2 linked regions of the Homo sapiens genome follow. The protein of the gene in region 1 purifies or fractionates together with the protein of each later gene. This does not show direct contact. Each region holds a gene or a part of one and is shown on either strand. Other genes may lie near its edges. The genes, in order: PCYT1B and SLC36A4.

Region 1 (3,827 bases):
CCCATCTCTACTAAAAATACAAAAATTAGCCGGGTATGGTAGTGTGCTCCTGTAATCCCAGCTACTTGGGAGGCTGAGGCAGGAGAATCGCTTGAACCCGGGAGACGGAGGTTGCAGTGAGCCGAGATCATCCCTCTGCACTCCAGCCTGAGTGACAGAGCGAGACTCCATCTCAAAAAAACAAAAAGATCAAGGAAGGCACAGTTTGTTTTCTGGCTCCAACTAGTGAGTGCCATCACTGAGATGGGTGTGCCAGGGAAGTAGAGTTTGTGAGAGTTATGTCTGAGGTGCCATGGGGACTTCCACTTGGAGGTGTCTAGTTCATGTTTGGTTGGGGAACTCAGGAGAGAGTTCTGAGCTGGAGATATAGATCTGGGAGATAGCATGGAGGAGATGGAAGTGAAATTGAGGCAGTGAAATGGATGAGAGTGAAATTGAGATAGTTTCTGGACTGAGAAGGAAGTGGATGGAGATGGTTACCTAGGAAGAGTGCCTCAGGATAATCCCACTACAGGGCTAATTCTAGAAAGTAACTGACCCTGAGCCATCCTATCAGGTTCTTAGAGGGGGAAAATAGAGGAGCTGTAATTAAAGCTATTAGACTCCTCCTTCTATTCATCTGTCTCTACATGAAATCTGGTTAAGCTAATCTACTTTATCCCAGAATCTTCCCAGGTTGGAACCCTAAGAAAGACTACTTAAAGGGCCAATAGAAGAAGGATCATGAAAAGAAGACAGAGAAGTATTTCTCAAATAACTGGGAGATCAAGGGACCAAGGGCAGGGTAAGTTTCATGGAGGGAATGTCCAATAGAATCAAATGCAGTAGAGAGATCAAATGAGTTAAGGAGGAAAAGTTTCCTTTGGATTTAGAAAGAAGAGGTCAGTGGTGATGTTTCAGTGAAGTGGTGGGAGCGGAGGCTGGATGGCAGTAGATTGAGGAGCCTATAGGTGGTAGGGAAGTGGAAGCTTGACTGAGAGAGGAAGCAGATAGAATGTACAGTACCCAGAGGTGGACAAATCAGGGCTTAGGGTTACTAGAGACTAGCTTTTCCCCTTCCTTCTTTCGTTCCTTTCATCTTCCCTCCCTTCATCTTTTTTTCCTTTTATTTCTCATTCCTTTCATCCATCCAAGATGTCAGATCTTTTGGTTGGCTCATTCTTTTAAGATGATAGCAACTTGTGCCTAAATATAAATGGGAAAGAGCCAGTGGGAGAGGGAAGGGGCGATGGTGATGGGGACAACTGATGAAGGGAATGTCTCTTAGGCTGGACAGGTTGGGCTCCAGTGCACAAGTGGAAGGATTGGCTTCAGGGAGAAAAAAAGACACCTCTCCCACTGTAGTGGCAAGGAAGCTGGCAAGGATGGTTTGGGCAAGAACAAGTTATAAGAGGAAGGGTACTGAAAGTTGAAGGCCTCTCTATCTGATAGCCTGTTTTTCATCTGTGAAGGTGGAAGCAAAATCATGGTGGCTTATTTCTGGCTAGTACGGAACTATAATTCTGGTATATCCTGGGTAGTTGAGTCCAGCCCCAGGATATGTCCTCTCCTGAGGCCTCCAGGCTGTGGGTAGGGAGAAGTGGAAAGGCTGAGATGGTTCCTGATGAGATGCAGTGATGAGAGCAAATGGATCTGCTTCGTTGTGGCCTCTGGGACTCCACACCAATGCCCATCAAGCCAAGTCTAGATCTGGCCAGGGAGAGCTGAACTAGCCCACGGTGAAAGGACAGGGGGCTGTCAAGACAAATGTGCTAAAGCTTGGTCTGGACTTGCTGGAGCCCATAGTCTTGTTCCAGTGTCAGTTTTGCCATTGAATTATTGTGTGCACTTAAGCAAATCACTTTCCTCTCTGGATTCCATTCTGTCCCCGACAATGGATTGGATAGATCCTTAGAGTGTGATTCTAGCTTTCATTGCCTTGGAACTTGGTCTACTGCAGTATGTTCTGTTTGAGCTCATGCTCCTATCAAAAGTCTGGGCTACCCCATTCCTCACCCCCTGTTGGTTTTATCCATTTGGGGTAAAAACAGGTTGCATGATCTTATGGTAAGACACACTGGCTAAATATGAATAACAAATGTTCACAAGCACTTTGAAGTTTTACATTGATGTTGTACAAACCACTTCTGCTGTCTTCTGTTTTATTCTTCAGATGCTTTCTCAGACAGGTTGAATGTATTCCAAATCATATATGGAATGTTCTATTCATTGTTTCGGGAAACCTGTGTTGAATCTCTTCTTAATGTGAACAGTAGCCTCCTAATTTATCTATTTCATACTACAGAAGTTTGAAACATTGGGCCTTCTTTGAGGCATGGCAGTATGGGCTTGAACTATAGAGGCCTTTCTTAATCAATGTTGTCCATCTAAGCTTGCTACTTGGGGTTAAAGTCCAGCAATGGGTCAGGCTGTAGTCCCAAAACTCTTACATCTTTAGCTGGTGCCCCACACAAAGCTTCTCAGTGACTGTTAGGGAAATAAATGCAGGAAAATAATTATCCCATCAGATCACTGGGGGGAAGAATGAAAAGGAAAAAAAAGCAAGGAAGGTAGAAACAAACTAAGTCATTGCAAGCTAGGCCTATTTTCTTCCAATAATCTCCCAGGTAACAGCCTCTACCTTGCTAGGATCTGATTACCCGTTGCTGGCCTCAGACCATAGCATTATTGTTTTAACATTCCTACCTTCCTCTTTATCCCAGCATGAACTGGGTTGTATGGGAGGCTGGGAAGCTGACCTTGCTTGGGGATAAAGAGACAGTTTAGCACTCAACAATCTTGAAGGCAGACTTGAAAACACAGTGATTAGAAAATAAAGCAGTGAGCCCTGGTAGTGTGCGCCTGTGTAATAGTGTGCAGGGCCACACGGGGCTAGCCTATTGAGCAGAATTCATTTTCATATAATCTCCTCCCTCCCGCCAAAATCTTTGACTTGGTGTTTTTGTTTTCTACTCGGTAATTCATGCATGCTGAACCTGACATCAGGATGCTGAGGGTTATTTAAACTGTCATTTAAGAAAAATAACAACGGTAATAGGTTAATAGAAACATCATGAATGATGTGTACAGCCTATTGCCAACCAAATGATGTTGAAAGCCCATTCCTGGTACATGCAGGCTTCTGTGTTTCATCTCTGGTGTGCCTAATATTGACTGTAGGCACAGTCACATAATAATAAATTCTATTGTACCTCCAAATTGTTTAGTTATAAGGTAATTGTTCTATATGGGATGCAAGGCTAGTGGTCTCACTCCTTTTTCTCCATGGGCAAGTCGGGGAATTGAACAACCATTCACAGTGCACACTGTATTGGGCACTGTGTTGAATGCTCTATATGTATTATCTCATTTAATCAGGCTGCAGACCCATGAAATAAGCATTACTATTCCTCATGTTATAAGTAAGGAAATAAATAATCAAGTAATTTCCCAAAGATCCAAAAAGATACATATGTATATTTTTGAGATGAAGTCTTGCTCTGTCACCCAGGCTGGGTGCAGTGGCATGATCTCAGCTCACTGCAACCTCCGCCTCCCAGGTTCAAGTGATTCTTCTGCCTCAGCCTCCCCAGTAGCTGGGATTACAGGTGCACGCCACCACGCTCAGCTAATTTATATATATATATATATATATTTTTTTTTTTTTAGTAGAGATGGGGTTTCACCATGTTGGCCAGGATGGTCTTGAAGTCCTGACCTCAAGTGACCCTCCCGCCTCGGCCTCCCAAAGTGCTAGGATTACAGGCGTGAGCCACCGTGCCCGGCCCCAAAGATCAAATATTAACTGATTAAGCTGGGAGTTGAAATTAGGTTTGTCTGACTTCTAA
Region 2 (3,827 bases), on another chromosome or scaffold:
TTCCCTTCTAGTACTAAAACCATGATCATGTTATAATAGATTTTGTTCTAAAATATTTAAGTCTTACAACTTTTACTTTTCAGATTTGTACAAACTCTTATGCACCTTCTTAAAGGAAATATTGGAACTGGCCTTTTAGGACTTCCATTGGCAATAAAAAATGCAGGCATAGTGGTAAGACTTATCTTTGTAATCACCAGTTAAGATGCAGTTCTCAGTCTCATTTATAGCAACCTAATATCTGGCCTAGTCAAATATAACCTGGTAAGGTGACATTTAGATGATCATTTAGATGTTGTCTTGATAAAATTGTGTCAACTGTGATAATGATATTTAACAAAAAATAATAATTACTTTATTCATTTCTACTTCATTACTTATTTGTAATATTTAGCCAAAAAAAAGCCACAAACCTAAAACAGTCTTTGATTTTTCCAGGTATAGTTATATCTTATTATTATTTTAGATTTTCAGGAATTGAATTTAGCAGTGTAATCACAGCAACAAATATATTTATAGAGCAGATTATTGGTAACGTGACATTGTATAGTTTTTTTAGAGTCAAATATACAGTTTTCAGAATTTAAATAACAGTTAAGAAAAGTTGGCCGGGTGCGGTAGCCCATGCCTGTAATCCCAGCACTCTGGGAGGCCGAGGTGGGCAGATCACGAGGTCAGGAGATTGAGACCATCCTGGCTAACACGGTGAAACCCCGTCTCTACTAAAAAATGCAAAAAATTAGCCGGGCGTGGTGGCGGATGCCTGTAGTCCCAGCTACTCGGGAGGCTGAGGCAGGAGAATGGCGTGAACCCAGGAGGTGGAGTTTGCATTGAGCTGAGATTGCGCCACTGCACTCCAGCCTGGGCGACAGAGCAAGACTCTGTCTCAAAAAAAAAAATAAATAAATAAATAAAAGAAAAGTAATAACAATAACTTTTAAAAACCAATATGTAAAGCATTGTTAGAGGCAGTTATTGTAATTATTATAATTGCAGAGAACCTTGATAGGGGAGAAACCCATTTATGAGGTAATAAAATAATATTTAACTTTTTTGAATAGACCACTTTCTAAAAACAGTTTTAACTATCCCTGCATTTGACTGTTTTGTTCCCCTAATTTAGATGATAAAAACTTTTGATTATAAAAATAAACTTTGGCAATATTTTGGTTGTATCTGGGTAATTACTAGCATTGCTTTAATTTTAGTAAATAAATATTTAAAGTATTTTATTTACTACTTTTTGAAATAATTATTTTATAAGCATGGTTTCTGACACATAGTAAGTACCCAAGAAGCAGTCTGTAGAAGAAATAAATTGCTCACAGTCTCCGTTTGATATTGTGCGTTTTCGGGATTTAGATAATGATGCATGGTTGCATATAATTATAATGGTGGGTCACTGATAGTTGTAGACTTGCCATCTGATGTTAAATATGATCTTGTGTTCTATCCTACTTTGTTGTCTATACTCCATATTCGTAGGTTTGAGTAGCTATGTTAATAAGATGGAATTATACATGGTTGTCTTAAATATTACTCGAAATTCCTTCTGCATCAAGTTTATTAGTTTTCCCTTATGCAATGACTAATCATTTTGCTCAACAAATATTTATTCACTGCACGTGAATAATCCATTGATTCATTGCTTATAAGATTACTCAATTTCTGTTAAATATTTAAACCTTATAAATTTTTTTTCCCCACAGCTTGGACCAATCAGCCTTGTGTTTATAGGAATTATTTCTGTTCACTGTATGCACATATTGGTACGTTGCAGTCACTTTCTATGTCTGAGGTAAATGTGGATTTGTTAAGCCTATTTATTTTAAAGCTATCTTTTATTTACAGCATCAGATAGTCTTATATTCTACTGTGCTTTGTATTTCGTTTAAGCTTTTACGTAGATAAATCTAAGGTAATGAATATGGAAGAAGGTAGCATTTCATATAATTTAAATCTGGTTGGAATCTATTTATTTTTAAAAGGTAGCCTTATTAGTGAAATAGTATGGTTTCTCTTAGTATAAATGGAAAAAATTAGAAAAGATATATAGAGGCAATGGAGACAGTGGTGTGATTTTTAGCTATAGCATAATAGTCTTCAATGTGTTAGTAATTCTGTTTTGATTATAATGCCTTTGGTGCTCTCTGCTGATGTATGAGTTAGTAGATAGTCAACAACACAATATTATTTGTCTTTATTTTTGTATCATGAAATACTTCTACTGGACAGTAGACCATATGTATTCTAGTAGCCTAATATCAAGTCTTGACTCTTTTTTGTTGTTGTTATATACTCTTAAAACTTTGGGCAAATCATTTATGAGCTTTATAGAACAATGTATACTTGGGAAAAAAAAAGAGAGAATGGAGAAATAATACCTACCTCATGGGAAGATTAAATGAGATAGTTTATGTGAAAATGTATTGTGCAGCCTTGCACAGATGTATTATTAAATAATGCTGTTCTAAGAATGGAATAATTTAGACATGAATAATGTAGTTGATGTTTTAGGCATTTGAAATATTTAAATTAATAAAGTACAAATATTAAGTTACATGAGTTCTGCACTTACATAAACTTTAGCAGTAGATAAAATTAATGTACTGGTAAAAAGGACAGATTTAAACATTTAAAACTTTATGAGGCATGCTTTAGAAGTATGCAGATCTTGACATTTTGGTAACTCATTTGTCAGTTCATAGCCTTGCATTTATTAATTCCCATTTATTTTATGTTTATTTCAAGAGGTGGTTTTATGGACCACCTTAAAATTTTTCTTTTTTCCTTTGTATGTATGTCATTAAATTACAGGTTTAAAAAGTCAACATTAGGTTATAGTGACACTGTGAGCTTTGCTATGGAAGTGAGTCCTTGGAGTTGTCTTCAGAAGCAAGCAGCATGGGGGCGGTAAGTACTTACTCTGTTATTAATATATGATTGTTAAAATTATGTTAATTTTAAGTATTTTAACCTAACAATATATATAAATAAAAATATGATAAAGTTGGGGAATAAACATATGTAACCCTTAGAGTTAAACAGACTTAGATTCTAATCTCAACTTGACCATTTTTCAGCTTTCTGACCTTGATCAAATTATTTATCATTGTGGTTTGTTTTTCTCAGTATGAAATGAGTTTACAGTAATACCCATTTCACAGGATCATTATGGTAGATGAAGTAAAATGATATTTATAAAGCATGACCTGGTCAAATGATGACATAATCGTGTTCATTAATTTTTTAAATAAAGGAAAACAAGAAAAATGTTGCAGTCTCATTATTTCAAATAAATTTGTAGTATTTGTATGCTTATCTGAGGTATGGCTATATTTTAGCATAACCTTATTTTATTGTCTTGTTACTTAAATGTAACTTTATTATTGGTGGCTCTGGCAAATCAAAGTAAGATGAATACAGGACTAGAAAAATAAGGAAGCATAAGCAGTCAGCAAAGTGCTACCTGTTGTAAAGATGACATGTGAGATGGGAATTAAAAGAAGAACAGTGTTAGTAGAGTAGTTTATAGTTAAGTGTGGCCTTTCTGGAGATTTTCAGGAAGTTAGATTTGGCATGAACTGCTCTGAGTTCCTGACATACTGAGTAGGAGAATATATGCTATAATAAAATGTTTTAAAACTCTTGAAAAGAGAAATAAAATATATTGACATTTCAGTAGCTCTCCTGGATACTCATTTGTGGATATCTTTTTTCAGGAGTGTGGTTGACTTTTTTCTGGTGATAACACAGCTGGGATTCTGTAGTGTTTATATTGTCTTCTTAGCTGAAAATGTGAAACAAGTGAGTATTTTTCTCCAGTT

The links.
Region 2: the proteins of PCYT1B (region 1) and SLC36A4 fractionate together in Homo sapiens (co-fractionation; one large-scale study listed by BioGRID). This does not show direct contact.

Annotation. Positions count from the first base shown.
Region 1 is NC_000023.11:24,637,299-24,641,125, reverse strand, and holds part of PCYT1B (choline-phosphate cytidylyltransferase B), read left to right. Parts: intron 1-664; exon of another isoform or gene 665-784; intron 785-3,827.
Region 2 is NC_000011.10:93,180,777-93,184,603, reverse strand, and holds part of SLC36A4 (neutral amino acid uniporter 4), read left to right. Parts: intron 1-83; coding exon 84-174; intron 175-1,709; coding exon 1,710-1,798; intron 1,799-2,817; coding exon 2,818-2,913; intron 2,914-3,722; coding exon 3,723-3,807; intron 3,808-3,827.